Regions from separate parts of the Homo sapiens genome. Here region 2 is linked to region 1. Evidence: fine-mapped expression QTL. A gene starts in region 1. The other region holds a variant in brackets. All regions are shown on one strand. Distances are between the middles of the regions.

Region 1 (8,404 bases):
TCTGCCCCCCTGCAGGCAGGCCCAAGTAGGACTGCTGGAGGCTGTGCTTTGACATTGTAAGACATTTCCGAACCAAAGGCTGCTGGGTTTGCATGTTTACAGACTCCCCCTGGGGCGAGGGTCAGAGCTGGCTCTGGGGAGCTGGGCTAGGAAGAGGAGGTGCAGCCCAGACTCTTCCTAGCCTTTCTAAACCAAAGTTCTTTGCCATTCCTACAAGCCCAGCCTTGCTGCTGGTTTTTTCCTTTCCTTTGGGTATTTGCACTATTTTGGGAGCAAGTTTTCTATGTGGGAGCCACTTTTTTTGTACAGGGGTAAGTTGGGGGTTTTCAGGGAGCCTGTTAGGTGCCTCCTTCTTTTCTTTCCTCAATCTATGCAAGCGGCTCTGGCCGCCATCATCTCCTGGGATGCCAGAGGGCTGCCTCTCCAGCGGCTTGGGCCGGGGAGGGGACACTCCAGTTCTCTAGCATGGCCTGAGGTATGGGGTATGTGCATGTGGAGGCCAGGGTAAGGTGAATGGGGAGGCTGGGAGGACTGGTGTTGCCCTTTGGAGCTTGGTGAGGAGGGTGGGCCTAGGGCTTGGCGAGTGCCACATCTGGCAGGTTTGGAAATTTCCAAATAAATCCTTTTGTCTATTGGTGGTGCCTGGACCTGGTCCTTGAACAGCACAGCCCTCATTAACAGACTGGAGTCCTAGAGGACTTGGCCCACAGAGCTTTATTGGAGAGATACACACAAAGGCTGTCCACTCACTTCCATAATTTCTTGATGGACATGTTTTTCTCACTGTCCTTCTGCATGACCTAGGGGTGGGAGAGAGAATGAACATTAAGTTACGAACACACACATGCCCTAGCCCACTGCCCCAGAGCCACCACTGGCAAAGGCACAAAGATGGAGGCCTATACCTTGGCTACTGCCATCTCAAAGTCCTCCTGAGTGACATGGACTCGCCGTTCTCGCAGGGCATACATGCCAGCTTCTGTGCACACGCCCTGAACAGGAAAAGGAAATTGAGGCCCCACTGCTGTGCCCCTCATCTGTGGCCCTTGAGCCCAGAGCTTCCTGCCTCTGCCCTGTTTTCAGTGGGTACTCCAATTACCTTCACTTCAGCCCCTGATGCTCCTGGCATGAGCTCAGCAATTTTTCTCAGGTTGATCCCCCGGGTCAGGTTCATCTTCCGAGAATGAATCTTCAAAATGTCCAGCCGGGCCTGGAGATGGCAAGGAAAAGCCTGAGCCCCACACCCCACCCCCACAGCCAGAGCCACTTTGCACAGTGTCCATCACAAACCTCCTCATTGGGGGGTGGGAATTCAATTTTTCTGTCAATGCGCCCTGGGCGAAGCAGTGCCGAGTCCAGGATATCAATCCTATTAGTAGCCATGATAACCTGAGCAGAGAAAGCAAGTGGGGATCAGCTAAACCTCTTCCTCAGCCTGCGTGGCACCCAGGCCTTCCCTGGGCCCATCCCAAGGATGCTACCACCTTACCTTGATGTTCTTGGTGGCCTCAAAGCCGTCGAGCTGGTTGAGCAACTCCAGCATCGTGCGCTGCACTTCACTGTCCCCTCCAGAACCCCCCTCCAGCCGCGAGGAGCCGATGGAGTCGATTTCGTCCATGAAGATGATAGATGGAGCATGTTCCCGTGCCATGACAAACAGCTCCCTCACCATTCTTGCCCCTGTGTGGAGGCCGAGCTGGTGTTAGGGAGCTTATTAGCTTATTAGCTCTCTAACCCCCTACCCCTACCTCTTGCTTCTCACATTGCTAGCCATGGTTACCTTCCCCTATGAATTTCTGTACCAGTTCAGAGCCAGAGACACGAATAAAGGTACAGTCCGTATGATGAGCCACAGCCCGGGCCAACAGTGTCTTCCCAGTGCCTGGAGGTCCATACAGCAGCACTCCCTACAGGGGAACAGCAGGACTCAGGGCAGAAAGCTACACCCCTCATTTCATTCAGTGAACATTTACCGAGTGCTGGGTCCCTTGCTAGATGTTAGGGATACAAAAAAAAAAAAGGAACATCAAGGTCCCTTCTATCCAAACCACCTCACCGCCCTAGGAACACTTCCCCAGCCACTCTTTTCAGGGGGAGGGCCAGCCCAAGCAAGATGCAGCCTATCCCGGTGCCTCCCCAACCCCTGCAGTAGGGCTGGCTGGGGCAGGAGGAGTAAGTACAGCTTGGCCCTCTCAGAGAAGCCCTGCTCCTCACCTTGGGCTGAGCAATGCCCAGTGCTTCGAAGAGCTCAGGATGCTTAACAGGCAGCTCGATCACTTCTTTGATCTCCTTGATCTGTTTGTCCAGTCCACCAATCATCTCATAAGTTGAATCTGGTACTTTCTCCACCATCATCAGTGACACTAATGGGTCTACCTTGTTGGGCAGGATCTTGTGCAGAGTGTAGCTGTCATTCCTTAGAGCCACCCGGCAATTGGGTGTCACCTGGGTGAAGGGGGCGAGTTTCAGAAGTGGTACAGTAAGAGCTGACCCCACCACCACCACCACCTCACCTGCTACACTCACATCATTGATGTCAATGTTTTTGTCCACGTCTACAACAAATTTACCTTCAGGATGTACCTAAAGAAACAAGGGCTCATGACCTTCCTTGACAGCCACCAAATCACTAATCCTACCCAGGAAGACCTATGAGAATCCCACAATACCTTGACAGAACACAGAACCCTGTCTCCCGAGGCTACACACAAAGGGGTGGGAATGCAGTGGAGACCGAGCTGGTCCCTGGGGTCATGCTGCTTTTACCTTGACCAACACTTTCTTCTTATCCATGGCCCGGACTACTTCCCCCACATAGGAGCCCTGCTCCTGCAGCAGCTGTAGCTCCTCCCGCAATAGGCGAACTAGATGGCAAACAGACACAGTGGTCACCTAGCTACTCCTTTGGAGTCTCCAGGACCCAATTCTACGTGCATGAGCTAAGCATCACTCTTATTAAAGGAAGGCCAAAGGTCAAAATTCATGTATTTAAGGAGGCTACAATAGGGCTCAGGAAAAAGAGATGCATGTGAAACTACTAGATGATGACAGGGAGAAAACAGTAAGCACTGCTGTGAAGACACAGTGCAGGGAGATAAGGACAGACCTCAGACAAACTGCCCACATGCGGCTTCCCATCTTTCTCCACTCACCTTTAGCATTTAGTTCGTTCCTCTGTGCCTGCAGCCTCCGGAGGTTTTGGCTCTTATCATTCACAATCAGCTGTGGCAGACAAGAGACAAATTCCATTATTCAAGGGCAGGAGACAGGAGGAGGTAGGATCTTGGCCAAGACCTCACAGGTCTGAATGAGCTGAGGGAAGGGCACAGGGCACCTGCATGTTGTTTCAGATTCTCCAGTATGATCCTAATGACCCTGCCCTGTCCTTCAAGAGTCCCTCTGGACCTTACAGCAGCCATCAAAGAAGGCTGCTTGTCCAATACTGGTCCAGGAGTAACAGAATCTAATGGAGAAAAGTTACAGCTGGCTCATGTAACACCAAATTTCTTGCAGGAAGGCAACAACACCTGGTGGAAAGATTGTTAGGTGAGAAACCTGAGTTCTAGCCCAGCCGCTGTCAATCAAAAGCAAAGTAAAGGTAAGACAATCTATTTTTAAAAATCTAGATCTGTTACCAAACGGCACATGGGTATAGCATCAGCTACCCTGCTTCAAGACTACTAAGGTGAACGAATAAAAACACATGAAAAAGCATTCAAAAATGGTAAACTAAACATAATACCTGCAAATGCACTTGGAATTCAGAATTGTCTTTTGTGGCTTTCCCCCATCCAATTTATATTACAGTTGACACTTGAACAACGCAGGGGGTTAGGGTGAAATTGAAAATCCATGGACCTGTCCAAAGTTAAACTACTAACAGCCTACCGTAACAGTATAACGTAACACTAACAGACTACTGTTTATGTTGTCTGTAAGGCTTACTACTGGAAGCCATACCTTACTGCTGGAAGCCTTACTGGTAACACAAACATTTGATTAACAACATAAACGGTCCTTTTTCTATGGTTTAGCGCTTTAGGCTAGGGCTCTGGGTTGCCCAATTTCTTTCATTCAGTCTCTATGGAATTAGCATTGTCCAGATCCCTCAATGATGCCCTTCCTCACATTCTCACTTCACCCTCACCCAACCTCTTGGTGATAAATTTCAACTCCTGAGCTTATGTTTCCCTTTTATAAGAATCCTTTTCATTCGGGCTTCTTCCAAAAGGGTTGACCTTTGGCTAGAGGTACCTTTACTATTAAGATTTGACTCGAAGATGTGTAACAAACTGTGAACACTAAGACCCTCAAAGAGATGGGACTGGAGGAGAACAAGAGATTGCTTACTTCTGATACATACACCCTACTAGCTAAGAAACAAACAAGAAAGGAGAAGCAGCAGCTTCTTCCACTGCACTCCCAAAGGAATTAGATGGATTTGTGGAAGTCCGTTTCCATCCCCCATCATCACCCTTCCTAGCTCCCTCTGGAGTCCGTCCTCACCTGGAGTTCTTCAATCTTGGACAGATAATATTGGCGGAGTCCGCTGCCTGCCTTCCCCTCCTCCAGCTCCATCTGAAGACACAGAGTGAGTCTTAAACGACAGGTTAAACATCCGAGGGGGTAAAGCCACTTGCAGGGCACTTTGAATAAGGCTTGACACCAGGTAGCTTTGCGTAGTAGAAAAAGTTTGGACTTCGGAGGCTCAGGATCTGGGTTCTAATCCCTCCCTCCCTTGGAACCCTCCATTTTCCCAGGACTAAAATAAAAGAATGGGAACGCCGCCTACCTCATACGACTTTTAGGAGGACCGAGAGGCGATATGATATAGACGGGGGGCGCTTTGCACTGCGTGAAGTGCTCTACAAGCCCGAGGTGTCAGTACTGACGAAGGAGCCAGCGGAACGGAGCCAAAGGACTGGCGTCCCGTCTCCTGCGACCCGTGGGCCGGCCATTCCCGCGCCCATCGCTTCCCTCACTCACTCCGCTTCTACCGCGTCTTCCTCTCCCAGCCTTGCCCTGACTCACCGAGGGCGGCGCTGACACAGCAGATCCGGTCGCAGGCAGCGTCCAGCATGGACTGGTCCAGGCACCTCCGACCCACCCGACGCTCCTGCCCCGGCCCGCTCTCCACTCAGATCACGCTCGCTCCGCACCCAGCCCCGTAACCTGCCGGGCCGCCACTGCACCCGCCATACCTGCTCTGGTCCGTCAAGCGCCATCTTCTCTCTTCAGCAGAGACCGCCGGCATCCGAGCCGTCTTGGCGCGCAAGCGCGGAAGCGGAGGATTGGGACCTGAAGACCAGGCAGAGAAGAATTCCGGGTCAATGGGCGGGGTGTGCGGCGAGACCACACTAAGGGAACCATGATGGGAGGGGCGGCTACTCGAGTTCAGGGGCTTTGGAAGGGGATGAGGAAGGAGTAGAACTCCTCCTCAGTGTTGCCTCATTGAAACTCTGTTTATAGTTCTTGTGATATGCCTTCCTAGTCTCAACTTTCAACTTACAAAACCCAAGGACAGAGTATTGAGAACAATCTAGGGCCACACTCAAAATGGCGGAAAACCTCGAGCCAGGGACGCAGGGGACGCAAGCGGAAGCGGAAGTAGTTAGCTGCATACTTGTGCGGTTCCAAGTGTGGAGAAAGCGGCTCTGGGTCTAGGTAGTGTGCGGAGAGGGGCGCGGGGTGGAATTGCTGCGGGAAGTGGGAAACTGGAAGTGGGAAACTGGAAGTGGAATCTGGTGCTCCGGAAAGAGACGTTCCCAACTTCTACTTTCTCCCCAGATTGAGGGATACTCCCCCTTTCCACCATGGGCAAGAAGGGCAAAGTTGGCAAGAGCCGACGAGACAAGTTTTATCACTTGGCGAAGGAGACGGGTGAGTCCGGATTCGCTCAGTCTGCGAGCGAGCGAGCGATCTCTGCCCGGTTCGCCTGCTCTTTGCGACCATTATGTACCTCTCCTGCAGAAGGGGTGGTCGGTTGCGAGGCCGGAGAAATCCTACTAGTGAAGCAGTTTGCGCACTTGGTTGTTTTGTCCAGGTTACCGTTCCCGATCTGCTTTCAAGCTGATCCAGCTCAATCGCCGCTTTCAGTTCCTGCAGAAAGCCCGAGCCTTGCTGGACCTGTGTGCTGCGCCAGGGGGATGGTTCGTAACACTCGCCACAGGTTGCTCCTGGTGGCCGCTTTCTGGGTTCTGAGCTGGGATGGCTTCCAGTTTCACTGCGGGAGGGGAACCCGAATCCCGGTCCTCTTGGGGGCCGTTTCCTTTCTTGATTGCAGAGAAAGGGCTTGGAATACGTGCCTATGATATGCTTTGGCCAGTACACGTAACACCAGGGATGAGAGATCAGTTGCCAAGAGGGGGAAAAGGATGGCTCTAGGTTTTTAAATTTCTGTTCCTTTTATAGGCTGCAGGTAGCTGCCAAGTTTATGCCTGTATCCAGCCTTATTGTGGGTGAGTAACGGACAGCTCTCCTTGGTGTTTTAAGGGGTGGGTGTATAAGGTATTTTGTCCTGTATTTCTCTCCTCCCTGCTTGAAGCAACCTTTTAGAATACTCTGACCTGATTTCTTCCAGGAGTGGACCTGGTTCCAATCAAGCCTCTCCCCAATGTGGTGACTCTCCAGCAGGACATCACAACAGAACGTTGTAGGCAGGTAATAGGAGTCTCTCTCTTCCTTCCCCCTTTATACGGAAACATCTACATCCCTGAAATCCTCTAAAGGCAAGTTTTTCCTTTTTACCGTGCTTTGAGCACGTTCTTGCCTGACATCTGTACGACAAGACCTATGGCATTCGTAGTGTCCACTCCAGGCTTTATTTAGAGTCAGGGATAAAGGTGTTTGGAATTGGGAGAAGGGCAGAGATCTTTAGTGAAGTCTTCTCCTGTGAATTCAGTGTCAGACTGTAATCTCCATGAAGGTAGAGACATACTGTTTTTGTTTACTATTGTATCTCCTGTGCCTGGTACTGCATTTGGCCCATGATGGGCACTCAGCAAATGACTAGATGGACAAATGGCTGAACCAGGGCCATTCCAGTGTTTCTGTTTCCATAGTTCCTTTTCTTCTCTTTAGGCCCTGAGGAAGGAGCTGAAGACCTGGAAGGTTGATGTTGTGCTCAATGATGGGGCCCCCAACGTTGGGGCTAGCTGGGTCCATGATGCTTACTCACAAGGTACAGGGAGTGTGGTGCTTGGAGATCAGGTGATGGTGGAGGTGGGCGCATGCCCTCCTGGGCTGCAGAGTGCGTCAACTAATTGTCTCTATCCTACAGCCCATTTGACACTGATGGCTCTACGTTTGGCTTGTGACTTTTTGGCCCGTGGTGGCAGCTTCATCACAAAGGTTTTCCGTTCTCGTGACTATCAGCCTCTGCTATGGATCTTTCAGCAGCTGTTCCGCCGTGTCCAGGCCACCAAGCCCCAAGCCTCTCGCCATGAATCTGCAGAGATCTTTGTAGTCTGCCAAGGTGGGCATCATTTCCTTTCTCTTGATCCAGGCTCCCAACTCCCAAAGCACACTTTTTAATATATCCTGTCATTTTTAGGATTCCTGGCCCCTGACAAGGTTGACAGTAAATTCTTTGACCCCAAATTTGCCTTTAAGGAGGTTGAAGTTCAGGCTAAGACCGTTACTGAATTGGTTACTAAGAAGAAGCCAAAGGTGTGTTTTGGGGAATGGGGTCACTCTTGGGTCCTGGAACTCTAGGGAGGTTGGGCCTGGTGGGTCCTACAGGTACCTTAGAAGGGCCTGACCAAGCTTCTCTCTTTTCCTTCCTAAGGCTGAAGGCTATGCTGAGGGTGACCTCACTCTCTATCACCGTACCTCAGTCACTGACTTCCTCCGAGCTGCCAACCCTGTTGACTTCCTCTCCAAGGCCAGCGAAGTGAGTCTCCAGCCTTGAGGGACATGAGGTAGCCCCAGAAACATGGCCTGAGGATCTCCCCTGACACCTTTCCATCCTCCCAAACAGATCATGGTAGATGATGAAGAGTTGGCACAGCATCCAGCTACCACTGAGGACATACGGGTGTGCTGTCAGGACATCAGAGTGTTGGGGCGCAAGGAGCTCAGGTATGGAGTGGGGTAGGCACGGGGGCCAGGAGCCCTGGAGGCAGGGAAAGGCCATGATGTTGGACCTCTGGGAAGAGGATATTGCTGTGCTAAAGGTTTGGGATGGGGGCCTGAGCCTTTTGATTTATGTAGCCGAAGCCCGAAAGGTGGGTAGTGAGCCTAAAACAGAAGGGGGCGGGGACAAAGAGGGAGATGGCAAGATCAGTAATAGTATCTCTGGGGCAGGTCGCTACTAAACTGGAGAACAAAACTTCGGCGATATGTGGCCAAGAAGCTGAAAGAACAAGCAAAGGCACTGGACATCAGGTGAGGAGAGAACGCAGCG
Region 2 (12,096 bases), 60 kb before region 1:
GATAAATCCCAGATGACACTCACTTCCCTTCGGGGGATGCAACACAGAGGGGTGGGAACCAGCACAATCTGCAGAACTCAGGCCCCTGCTGAGGTGGGACCCACCCAGCCTGTCACCATCAGGACTGCAGGGACACGGCTTCCAGACCTTCTGACCTTTTGAGACAGCCAGGACATCCAGACTTTTACAGGAATTCTAACATTTAAACACTGGCAACACATATTGAAAATCTTTTAAGGGCAAAAATTAACCGAAACACACATGGTCTCCAAGCTGTCTGTGAGCAATTTTGTTCTAAGAGATGTTGATTGGGGTAACTTGGTGTAAGGGAAAGAATCAGAAAGATTTGGGCTGTATGTAATTTAGTGCCCCCGAATAAATTACTTGACCAAGCTGAGATAATAATATATTGCTTTACAAGGATTATGTGAGGACTAAATGCAATGGTATTTTTGATATATTATAGTACTCAAGAAATTCTAGCTATTTCTGCATTGAATTTTTGGATGTTTTGTGTTTTCTGATGGAGTGTCTAAATACCTGTAGTGAAATTATATTGTTTTCCTAATGACAATTAGGAAATAATAAACATCTCAGATGTTTATTATTTCCAAATAAGCACTAAAGAGCGGTGGTTAGTTAAGAGTTTGCTCTCCCAAGCACCTTGGCTAAGTGACTGGTGACCTATAAATCGATGCTAAGATGCTCACAGGAACTCTAGTATCCAAAAATGATTTCATAAAGTCAGGAATTGTTTTGCAATGCAAATAATCAACCCCCCAATTAATCTTCTTTAGAAGTTCGATTCTTAAATGCTATAATGAATTTTCTTGATAATGAGACCCACTTGTATTCATTTTTGGCTATTTTACCATTAATAACTCAGTCCTTGGGAAGTGGTTGAAAGTTGAACTAAACAGAATTCTGGAGCTGCTGCATTTCTCAGCTCAGAAGCCATTCCTGCATCTTGCATTGTTCTTCTACTATCGGGCTTTAAAATTATGGCATTTTGGAGTTAGAAGGGCCTCATAAGTCAGCCTAGTTTCTTCTACTTTGGGAATCTTATCCTACAACATCCATTACAGTCAGTATTCCATTTACGAGTGTGTAGCACTAGAACCAAGGGAATCACTTTCACAAGGCTCCTCATTCTATTAAACCACTCTCATTGCAAAAAACTATTTCTTGCACGAAGCTGGAATCAATATTCCTGCAATGTCCTTCATTTGGCCTTAAAATTATTTAGAAATCTCAGTCTTTAGAAGTTGATGGAATGAGCACAATTATAATTATCTCTCGGCTTGCGTGTTTTAAAAGGAAATGTGAGCCATCTTAATAAGTATTTGTTGAATGCACGTGACAGTGGAATGACAATGTCCAGCGCCTACTTGGGTGGCTAAGAGGGTTCTAAAGTGGGGTGGTCATAACATGTAACTGAACTGCAGGGGGAGCCACACTCCAGAGACTGTCCACCCAGCTCCCCTCGGGTATAGGAAACTCCACTCAACCACTGCTGGTTGAGAATTAGAAAGATACTACCAACTTTGCACATTTTAAAATATAAAAAGACCTTAAAGACCATCTACTTTAAACTCTTTGATTTACCCACTGTTAGTCTACATTTCAGCTCATCAACTTGGTGTGGACAGCAATTTCCGCTGCAAATTTGAGATGCCTAGGGTGTTTTCTAAACGATGCATTCGTGAGCCCTCACTCCCTGAGATTCTGATATAATTAGACTGGAATGTGGTCCAGGCAAGAGTAATTTGAAAACTTTCCCAGGTGATTCTAACATGTAAACAAGGTTGAGAACCACCGTGTTAGGGACCGCAAAGATGAGACCCATGTGTTCACAGCTGTTGTACTGGTGGAACAGGGAAAACAGAGAAAAAGGAGATGAGAAAAAGGAGAAAAAGGAGATGGCAGTTGTGGTGCCACCTGCTCCTAATTCCAACCAGTCATCTAAAAGTGTTTATCGTGAGCCAGTCACAAAAAGACAAATACTCTCCGATTCCAGTCAGATGAGGTACTCAGAGCAGTCAAATTCATAGAGACAAAAAGTAGGATGGTGGCTGCCAGTGGCTGTGGGGAGGGATGGAATAGGGAGCTATTTAATGAGCACAGGGTTTCAGCTGTGCAAGATGAAAAGGGTTCTGGAGATGGTTGGTGGTGAGGGTTGCATGACGATGTCAATGTACTTGACATGACTGAACTGCACAGGCAAAATGGTTAAGATGGAAACGTTTATATCTTCTCACAACTAAAAATTGTTAATAGTTTCTTTTTGTTTTGTTTTTGTTTTTGTTTTTGAGACAGAGGCTGGAGTGCAGTGGTGGGATCTTGGCTCACTGCAACCTCCGCCTCCTCCCAGGTTCAAGTGATTCTCATGCCTCAGCCTCCTGAGTAGCTGGGATTATAAGTGTGCACCACCACACAGGGCAGATTTTTGTATTTTTGGTAAAGACAGGGTTTCGCCATGTTGGCCAGGCTGGTCTCAAACTCCTGGCCTCAGGTGATCCACCCACCTTGGCCTCCCAAAGTGATAGGATCATAGGCAGGAGCCACCAGGCCTGGCCCTTAATGGTATTTTCTATCGAAAACTCTTCCTGAAGATAAGATTAGTGAGACTCGCACAGGGAAGAGTTCAGCAGGCAGAGCTCCAGTCATCCTTGACCCCTGGCATAATGTTTTACTGACTCTGTCATTTTTTTTGAATTTACCCTAACCTAAAGTGACCAATTCTGAATTTCTTCCATGAGCATTGTCGAAATACACATGGTGGGTTTTGTCCCTTTATACACAGTTGAGAGCAGAACTGACCCCTTCCCTTTTCTTCTGAATTACAGGGTCTGGGCTTCTAGGCCAAGACAAGCTGACATTTTGCCTGGCTGCTTCTTTAATTCAGAAGGCCCTGAAGTGCTGTGGCACACAATGAGCACCGCTGGGATTAGGGTTACCAACTCGTCCTAGTTTGCAGGAGACTTTCTCAATGTCAACACTGAAAGTCCCACGTTCCTTCCAGGGATCCCTCAGCTGAATGAACACTCAGCTAACAGGACTGGTCACCCTATTAGTAGTCCTAAATCTTAGGGTACCAAACTGTGGGGAAAGTAGGGGAAGGAGCAAGAAAAAGACTAGAAAAACCGGAAAGCTGTGCTCGGTGTATATGACCTTTGATGGCCCTCATGGTTATCATGGATTTCTGATTCTTGCTTTGAGTTTACTGTGATTATAAAGATGTGCTTAATTACCACTAGAATTATCAGTGTAATAATAAAAAACAACTAATGTGAACACATATCTCCAGCACCATGCTAGTTTATTACATGTATTGTGTCATTTCTTTCTAATTATAATTCTCTAAGGTAAATACTATTATTAATCCTATGGTAAGAAGTCCCACTAACGATGTAACTTATGCTTTCTCAGGTCTAGAGAGAAAGACACCAGAATGTCACCCTGACCATCCTTGAGAGGATAAACGGCCAGGCACGGTGGCTCACGCCAGTTATCTCAGCACTTTGGAGGGCTGAGGCGGGAGGACGTCACAAGTTCGAGACAAGCCTGGCCAACATGGTGGCACCCCGTCTCTTACTAAAAATACAAAAATTACCAGGTGTGATGGTGCACACCTGTATTCCCAGCTACTGAGGCGCGAGAATCACTTGAGCCCAGGAGGCAGAGTTGCACTGAGCCCATCATGCCACTGCCCTCCAGCTGGATGGCTGAGCAAGATTCTCTCTCAAAAATAGTAAGAAAGAGGGTAAACTTTTGGAGTATTAAAGGCCACTCTTCCTCTGGAGATAATCAAGGTAGCTGCAATTTAAGCATAAGCTGGTTGCTTTAATGTTCAGAAAGAATATGATCAAAACCATTTAGAGGGTGGGGCCTCCTCTTATAGACAATGAGGCAGCTACCCTTAGAAGCTCTATTATACTGGAAAAGAGATATGAGACCCTTCCTACTTTAAGAATCAATGAAGCCGGGTGTGGTGGCTCACGCCTGTACTCCCAGCATTTTGAGAGGCCAAGCTGGGCAGATCACCTGAGGTCAGGAGTTTGAGACCAGCCTAGCCAACATGATGAAATCCTGTTTCTACTAATAACACAAAAATTAGCCGGGTGTGGTGGCGCACATCTGGAATCCCAGCTACTCCAGAGGCTGAGGCAGGAAAATTGCTTGAAGCTGGGAAGCAGAAGTTGCAGTGAGCCGAGATTGTGCCACTGCACTCCAGCCTGGGAGACAGAGCGAGACTCTGTCTCCAAAAAAAAAAAAAAAGAAAAGAAAAAAAAGAATCAATGAGAAGGGGCTGCCTGCCTGACCACTGGTTGTGTGGATCCTTCGGGAAGGAAAGCGAACAGAGGTTCCAAGTCTACAAGGGAAACAGCCCAGCCTACTCTGAAGAGCTTTGCGGGACGGCTCATCCAAACTACTGAGCTCTAAGAACTGGAACCCTGGAAACCCCAGCAAGAGGACACCCGCAGCTGGACCAGGCCCCGAAGAAGCAGATCATCCTCCCTCAGAGATCCACAGCAGCTGGGAACCCGGATCTGCAGACCCGCTTGGTTTGAGGGTACTGTGTGGGACCATCTGTCAACACTGACACCCTGTGGCAGTGAGAAGCAAAGGCAGCAGCCGGCTAAGCCTCCAGGATCTCCCTGCTGGAACTAGAAAGTCCAAGTGGCCCCCTTCTTCCCTCTTTTTTTTGTTTTGTTTGTTTTGTTTTTTGTTTGTTTGCTTTTGTTTTTGTTTTCTTCAAGATGGGGTGTCACTCTGTTGCCCAGGCTGGAGTGCAATGGTGCAATCTTGGCTCACTGCAACCTCAGTATCCCGGGTTCAAGCGATTCTTCTGCCTCAGCCTCCCCAGTAGCTGGGATTACAGGTGCACACCACCATGCCTGGCTCATTTTTCCCTTCCTTTTTGGATTCGCTGTGCTTCAAGGCACTGAGGCCATGAGGCAGGGTTTGCAGATACAGGGTAACTACAGCCCTGATGCGACTGATCCTGACACCAAAATGGCTGTGGATCCCTGCATGGTGTGGCTGTATACTCCTGTCTCTTAAACCTGCTTCTTAACTTACTTCCCCAAATGCTCAATTCAGGGAAGGTGGATGATTTATATTAGACTCACATGATGAAGGAGCAGTAGCTCCACCTAGTGGAAACATTGAGGTTGAAAAG[T/G]TCATGTTCGGGGATGATGCTATTTTACAAAGTCAAGATATTTCGTGTCCCTCCGGGAAGCCTTCCTTGATCCGAGTTATGCTTTCTCTTAACAATCTGTTTTCCCAGTCATAGGAGTTCATGCACAAATGTAATCTCCTACTTGTTTGTCTAGCTTTCCTAATATATTTTTGGAAGCCAGGAACAATGTTTTGTTCACCACTGTATCCCCACTGCCTTGTATGTGGTGAAACCAAAGGGTTACTTTTACACTTAATCTATAGCACCAGACTCAGGGGAGGTCTGGGAAGAATGGGAAAACGTTTTCCCTCTGCTGTCTGATGCCATGGTTTTTTCTAGCTGGTATCTGCAATTTGGAAGGCTATGGACCTCTCTCTATCTGGAAGTCTGACCTTTAGCTTTCATTTTTGTTCCTTTATTTTGCTTTTGAGACAGGGCCTGGCTCCGTTGCCCAGGCTGGAGTGCAGTGCATGATCTCAACTCGCTGCAACCCTCCACCTCCCGTGCTCAAGTGATCCTCCCACCTCAGACTCTCAAGTAGCTGGGACTACATGCATGTGCCACTATACCTGGCTAAGTTTTGTGTTTTTTGTAGAAATGGGGTTTTGCCATGTTGCCCAGGCTATTCGCAAACTCCAGGGCTCAAGTGATTCACCTGCCTCAGCCTCCCAAAGTGCTGGGATTACAGGCGTGAGCCACCACACCAGCCTGAATTTCAGTTTTGAAAGCAGGTCAAATAGGCTGCTGCCCTCAGTTAATGCACCCCCGGCCCTGGGCTGGTTGTTTATGCTATCAACACGGTATTTTTTCCTTAGAAATTGTACTTAAAGTTATAAAATGCAGCCGGGAGTGATGGCTCAGGCCTGTAATCCCAGCACTTTAGAAGGCCGAGGTGGGTAGATCACGAGGTCGGGACTTCAAGATCAGCCTGGCCAAGGTGGTGAAACCCTGTCTCTACTAAAAATACAAAAAATTAGCTGGTCATGGTGGTGGGCGCCTGTAATCCCAGCTACTCTTAATCTATAGAGGCTGAGGCAGAGAATTGCTTCAACCCGGGGGTGGAGTTTGAAGTGGACCGAAATCACACCACTGCACTCCAGCCTAGGCAAAGAGCGAGACTCCATCTAAAAAAAAAAGTTATAAAATGCAGCCATTTGACATAAGAGCTTTTAGCAATGACACAGAAGGGAAGGGAACTGCATTTGGACATCATAAAACCACTTTTATTTTTACCATAGCAACATTCCAGTGAACATTTCTTGACTGATTTGGGAGAAAACATCTGGTTCTGTGATTCCTCACGCCTTCTCCGAGGGTGAATATACTCTTTCTCAAGGACAGGGAAAGAAGCTGAAACATAAAATCATATGAACATTTTCACAAGAAGATTCCTCTTGAAGCTTCAAGGAAATTGTTTACAGACAGAAGAAAATATGCACTTATTGATGAAAAGGGAGAGTAAAGATTGGAACTTTAACCTAGATGCCCATATGGGTAAAAAAAAGAAAACTGGCAAATGCGAACTCACAGTTGATCACTCTATGAAAAGGAATTCAGAGATGTTTGGAGCTCTTAACCTATGAGGCCAATTTCATGGAAGAACTCTACCTTCTCCTTCAGAGACAGAATACTGAGCTAGATAGGATGCCCGTCTGGCCCAAAGTGGAATTTCTTACCATCTGTATACTCCCCCAAGACCCGCAACAGATGGTTACTGAGTTGAAGCTTGCCACTGATCCTTAATGATGTCAACAAGCTCAGCTCTGGGAGCTGGCCCTCCAGAAGCCCAGGTCAGGGGAGCAAGGGAAAGTGGAGATAGGAACAGAGCTCTGATTCCTGGCCCCATATTTGATACTTACTCCCTTCAAAGTCCTGTCCTTGGACTACAGATTTAGTTCCCAGTTAGTAATCAGAAAACCATGAAATATGAGTTGTATTTCTAAGATATGCCTGACTTTAGTATGATGTTTAAGAGAAAAGGGCAGTGAGAACCATGAAGAAACGGCAAGATCTTTTCTTTTTTTTTTTTTGGATCTAAGAGTGGACTGATGATGCACCTGGCAAGGAGCAAGAGGCCTTCTTACAAATCAAACATTGAGACTGAGATTCCTAATGAATAGAGTGAGCTCTAAAGAGAAAGGTGGCTGGGCGCGGTGGCTCACACCTGTAATCCCAGCACTTTGGGAGGCCAAGGTGGCCGGATCACTTGAGGTCAGGAGTTTGAGACCAGCCCAGCCAACATGGTGAAACCCCATCTCTACGAAAAGTACAAAAATTAGACAGGCATGGTGGTGTGCACCTGTAATCCCAGCTGCCAGGGAGGCTGAGGCAAGAGAATCACCTGAACCCGGGAGGCTGCAGTTGCAGTGAGCCAGGATCGCATCATTGCACTCCAGCCTAGGCGACAACAGCAAGACTCCATCTCAAAAAAAAAAAAAAAGAAAAAGAAAAAGAAAAGAAAAGAGAGAGAGAGAGAGAATGGTGAGCTTGTGGACATATTGGACACACAGGACATGGGGCATGGGGGCCTGAAACACCGTTTTACAGGACAGACGTACACAAAGGGGAATGCAGCCTGCCATTGTGTTTCTTCCTTTCTCCTCTATCCCTTCTTCCCTCCCTGGGAAACCACAGTAGCAGAAGTCTCATTCAATCAAACAGTTGTCAATTATATGAGTTGTACTTTTCTCTTCCTGAACAGCAAACTGGCTTTCCTCCTCTTTGTCCTCCTCTTTCTGCCTATAGAGCAATTTCCTCCTGTCCACTTTGCAGGGCCGATAGCTCAAATACAGTGCTATGGTGATGACACCCACTCCAAGGGCAACGGTAATAATGACAAAGAGGGTAGAGCTTATTCCTTCATCCAGTCCTGCCCAAGCACAGAAGATAGAGTTAGGAAAGTCTGAGAGTACAAGGATCACCCACCCCAGCCCACCAGGCCCACTTCTGAGTCTCATTCTTCCCAACCTAGTAGAATCTTTCTTATTTTCATGCTTAGATAAGAATCCCAAACCCCTGAGGGGTTTCCATCCTGGGCCTGGCAGCAGGGCAGCAAAGGTTACCTTGAACAATGACAGCAATGTCTTTGCTGACAGAGCCCAGCTGGTTAGTGGCTGTGCAGCGGTAGGTTCCAGTGTGGTTCTGGGTTGCCTTCTGTGGCACTTCAAGGTCAAAGACCACCCCATTCCAGGTACACACCAAGGCTGGAGCTGGGTTTCCCTTTGGGACGCAGGTGAGCGTGTGTTCCATCCCTTCCAGCCAGGTCTGTTTGGCAGAGCAACTGGATTCCTCTAACCGTGGTTGGTCTGCAGAAACAGTATCCCAAGGAGCTGAGTTCAGTGCACCACACTCCCTCCCTACTTCACCCCCTGCTCCCTCTCCTCCCCTCACCCAAATGCTGTCCCCTCCACCCAACAGCTTTCCTTCCCAAGGGAGCACTAGCAGCTCCCTGCTTTGAGCCAACTCTTCTTTCCCACTTTCCGTATGGGCAGGGAGTCCCAGATGAAACCTAGGGTGTTCTTATGGATTTGGACTAAATGATAACCCTGCTCTGTCCATGGTGGCCCTGGGGCCCCTGCTTCCCATGTTTGTTTCTCGGTGGGTAAGGAGCTAGGTAACAGTGAACTCAGAGATGAGGATTTTTCTACTTTTCTTTTTGGTTTTTTTTGGTTGTTTGTTTGTTTTGGAGACAAAGTCAGTCTCACTCCTTCGCCCAGGGTGGAGTGCAGTGGCGCGATCTCGGCTCATGACAACCTCTGCCTCCCAGGTTCAAGCAATTCTTGTGCCTCAGCCGCTCCAGTAACTAGGATTACAAGCGCATGCCACCACACCCGGCTAATTTTTCTATTTTTAGTAGAGATCAGTTTCACCATGTTGGCCACGCTGGTCTCAAACTCCTGACTTCAGGTGATCCACATGTCTCAGCCTCCCAAAGTGTTGGGATTACAGGCATGAGCCACCACGCCGGCCTATCCTGAGCCTTTTGAAGCTGACGCCAGAGGTGCAAAGCGCAGCCTCTCCCCATTGGCCATGTGGAGGCTCTTGTTGGGTACTCTCTCAGCCTGCAGGAGCCAGGGATCTGGCCTCAAGTGATGCCCCAACAGTGGGCGACCTCCCAGTACTGTCAGGGGAATCCCAAGTCTAATTCAAAGATGATTTTTTACTAGCAATGAATGATGGATGTGGTCTCCATTGCTCAAGGCTCTGGGAAGATCTAGACTAGAGAAAATGATCATTGACTTCTACCCACACCTGTGGGCCTCAGTTCTTCCCTCTGGTCCATGGTTACCATGGTAATCCCTTATAAAGGTGTTTCCCCAGGGGTCCCTAGAGTCCTCTGAGTCACCATAATTCTGGGGTCAACAGAAGTGGAGAGGTGAGAGGAGACACTCCCCTGCCCCGGCTGGTCCCACGTGTTGCTGTCAGTAACCTGCCTGGGGAGCCTTGCCACCCCTGTGCCCACCTGCGGAGTTATGCAGTGGTCCCCAACTAGGGCCCCTGCCACCCTCATTCCTAAGGGAGGCTGGAGACTTCTTCCATGGCCGAAAATCCACATCGAAGTCCCCAGAACTGGCTAAAAGGACCTGTCATGGGGGCTCCCTGTCCCAGCTGACATTGGAGGAAGGATGGTGGGGGAGGCAGAAAGCTACATGGAGCTCAGGGACCCTCTTCCATTCCCACCTAGCTCCTCCTCTTTGCTGGTGCTGGAAGGAGCAGGGGAAAGTGGTGACTCCACCCTCCCTTGGCCACATATTTCTCAGAGCTGGTATCATTGATGACACCCCTCTTGGATCCTCACACAGGCGGGCCTGGAGAACAGCCCACAGCACAGTGCCCTCCCAGCAGGTGATGAGTCTGGGGTGCTGGTCCGATAATGTTTCAGGAATGATGGCAGAAAATGGAGCTCTGTTTTCTGCTCTGAAAGTGGGGAGATGGCAGGGCCCCAGCATTCACATCCTAGGCCACAGGGGTGTGGGTTTTCAATGTTGGTTGCCAACACCACAGCCAACCACTTCTGGAAGCATTTGCTTGTTTGCTTGCTTGTGTTTCTACAGAGTCAAGTGCTAGATGCTCTTAAACTCAGGGGGGAAGATTTCACCACTAGAGAGGGTGCTCTTTCCTGCTCTCATCTCTGGGGGTATCTGATGCTTGTGACCTCCAGATTATATTGAAGTAGCCCCAACCCTGGGCACCAGGAGACAGGAGGCTCAGTCCTGGCCTTCTCTGCCTTCACCTTGTCCTGCTCTGAGGTTTCCACAAGGCACCCCATGCCACTGGGCCATTCTCACCTGAGAATTGAGAAAGAACAATCTGCCCCTTATGGAAAGACAAAATGAGGCAAAGGGCCCCTTGTGTTGGGGGCAGGATCCCTGCACTCAGAGGGATATAGAAGCTGAAATAACTGGGTTGGGAGCAGTGGCTCACGCAAGTAATCTCAGTACTTTGGGAGGCCAGGGAGGGTGGATCACCTAAAGTCAAGAGTTCGAGACCAGCCTGGCCAACATAGTGAAACCCCCGTCTCTACTAAAAAAGTGCAAATCTTAGCCCGGCATAGTGGTGGACGCCTGTAATCCCAGCTACTTGGGAGGCTGAGGCGGGAGAATCACCGGAACCCAAAGGTGGAGGTTGCTGTGAAGCAACATCATGCCACTGAACTCCAGCCTGGGTGACAGAATGAGACTCCATCTCAAAAAAAAAAAAAAAGGAAATGAAGCTAAAATAACTAAATAACTGAGTAGCACCACACTACGTGCTATGGAGAAAGGATTTTTTTTTTTTTTTTTTTTGAGATGTAGACTCGCTCTGTCATCCAGGCTGGAGTGCAGTGGCGCAATCTTGGCTCACAGCAACCTCTGCCTCCTGGGTTCAAGCGATTCTCCTGCCTCAGCCTCCCAAGTAGCTGGGATTACGGGCTCGTGCCACCATGCCCAGCTAATTTTTGTATTTTTAGGAGAGATGGAGTTTTGCCATGTGGGTTAGCCTGGTCTTGCACTCCTGACCTTAAGTGATCCACCCACCTCAGCCTCCCAAAGTGCTGGGATTATAGGCATGAGCCACCGTGCCCGGCCTGGAGAAAGGACTTTAAATGACGCAATGTGGGAAGAGCAAGGTTGTGAAGATCTGCTGCCCTGGCTGAGGTAGCTCATGTAATCAGTCTCTCTGAGCCTCAGTCTCCTGATCTGTGAAATGGGATGATAGTCATAGCTCCTACACAAGACAAGTGGCAGTTCAGACGTGAGAATGCACAGGCAGGCCCTTGGCAACTGGATAAGCTCTACACAGGTCTGGAAAGGAGGAGGAGACAAAAGAGGAGGGGCTTCCATGGCTGGATAGGGCGTCTTTTGGCGTGATGTGTTCTGAGTTTTAAAGCTGGGGAAGAGACTCAAATCTTCAAGAGCTCTTCCAACTTTGAGATTCTCTGTTGGTTTCAGGACTATGGGAGGAAGCGCTTGTGGTCCGTGTCTGTTCCCGGGATTTCTGTTTCTTGGTTTGTATCTCTGCTACAGGTCCAAGGAGCTGGGGCAATACCTTGAGTCTGGGTTATTCGTCCCCAGGGACCTGGGGGAGCCCCCCCCCCACCCCTCCCACACCCACACCCACCCCCACCCCCACCCCCATCCCCACGCCCCGCCCCCGCCCCCGCCCCAAGGCTCAGGTAAAGGGGAGAGCAAAGTGTGGAGTTTGTTCCCTCTAGTGGTCAGTATTAGCACTGCATCCAGGCGGGCCTGTCTCAGGCGAGCCCAGGAGTCAGCAAAAGTGGAATTCAGCACTGAATCATGCCCAGAACCCCCGCAATCTATTGGCTGTGCTTTGGCCCCTTTTCCCAACACACACATTCTGTCTGGTGGGTGGAGGGGAAACATGCGGGGAGGAGGAAAGGAATAGGATAGAGAGTGGGATGGGGTCGGTAGGGG

Evidence for each region. PIP is the estimated chance that this variant, and not a neighbour inherited with it, causes the effect.
Region 2: its variant is fine-mapped to the expression of FTSJ3 in adrenal gland (GTEx, PIP above 0.99).

What each region holds. Positions count from the first base shown.
Region 1 is chr17:63,824,312-63,832,715 of GRCh38, reverse strand. It overlaps FTSJ3 (FtsJ RNA 2'-O-methyltransferase 3), which reads left to right and starts at 5,053. Exons shown (of 21, transcript NM_017647.4): 1 at 5,053-5,664; 2 at 5,788-5,880; 3 at 6,044-6,149; 4 at 6,412-6,458; 5 at 6,581-6,660; 6 at 7,081-7,180; 7 at 7,280-7,474; 8 at 7,553-7,668; 9 at 7,787-7,891; 10 at 7,979-8,079; 11 at 8,305-8,385. The coding sequence starts at 5,814. PSMC5 (proteasome 26S subunit, ATPase 5) reads right to left here and starts at 5,285. Exons shown (of 12, transcript NM_002805.6): 1 at 5,202-5,285; 2 at 4,507-4,578; 3 at 3,153-3,222; 4 at 2,767-2,864; 5 at 2,527-2,583; 6 at 2,215-2,445; 7 at 1,781-1,907; 8 at 1,490-1,680; 9 at 1,291-1,389; 10 at 1,100-1,210; 11 at 906-992; 12 at 697-800. The coding sequence starts at 5,225. The coding sequence ends at 747. It overlaps SMARCD2 (SWI/SNF related BAF chromatin remodeling complex subunit D2), which reads left to right. Exons shown (of 13, transcript NM_001098426.2): 13 at 1-635. RefSeq lists enhancers at 4,895-4,944, 5,325-5,604, 4,741-5,940.
Region 2 is chr17:63,882,201-63,894,296 of GRCh38, reverse strand. No RefSeq gene overlaps it. Among named protein-coding and RNA genes, the nearest start is that of GH2, 6.3 kb to the right of the region's middle. RefSeq lists a silencer at 11,788-11,837 and an enhancer at 11,997-12,096. The variant T/G (reference allele first, on the strand shown) is at 5,183.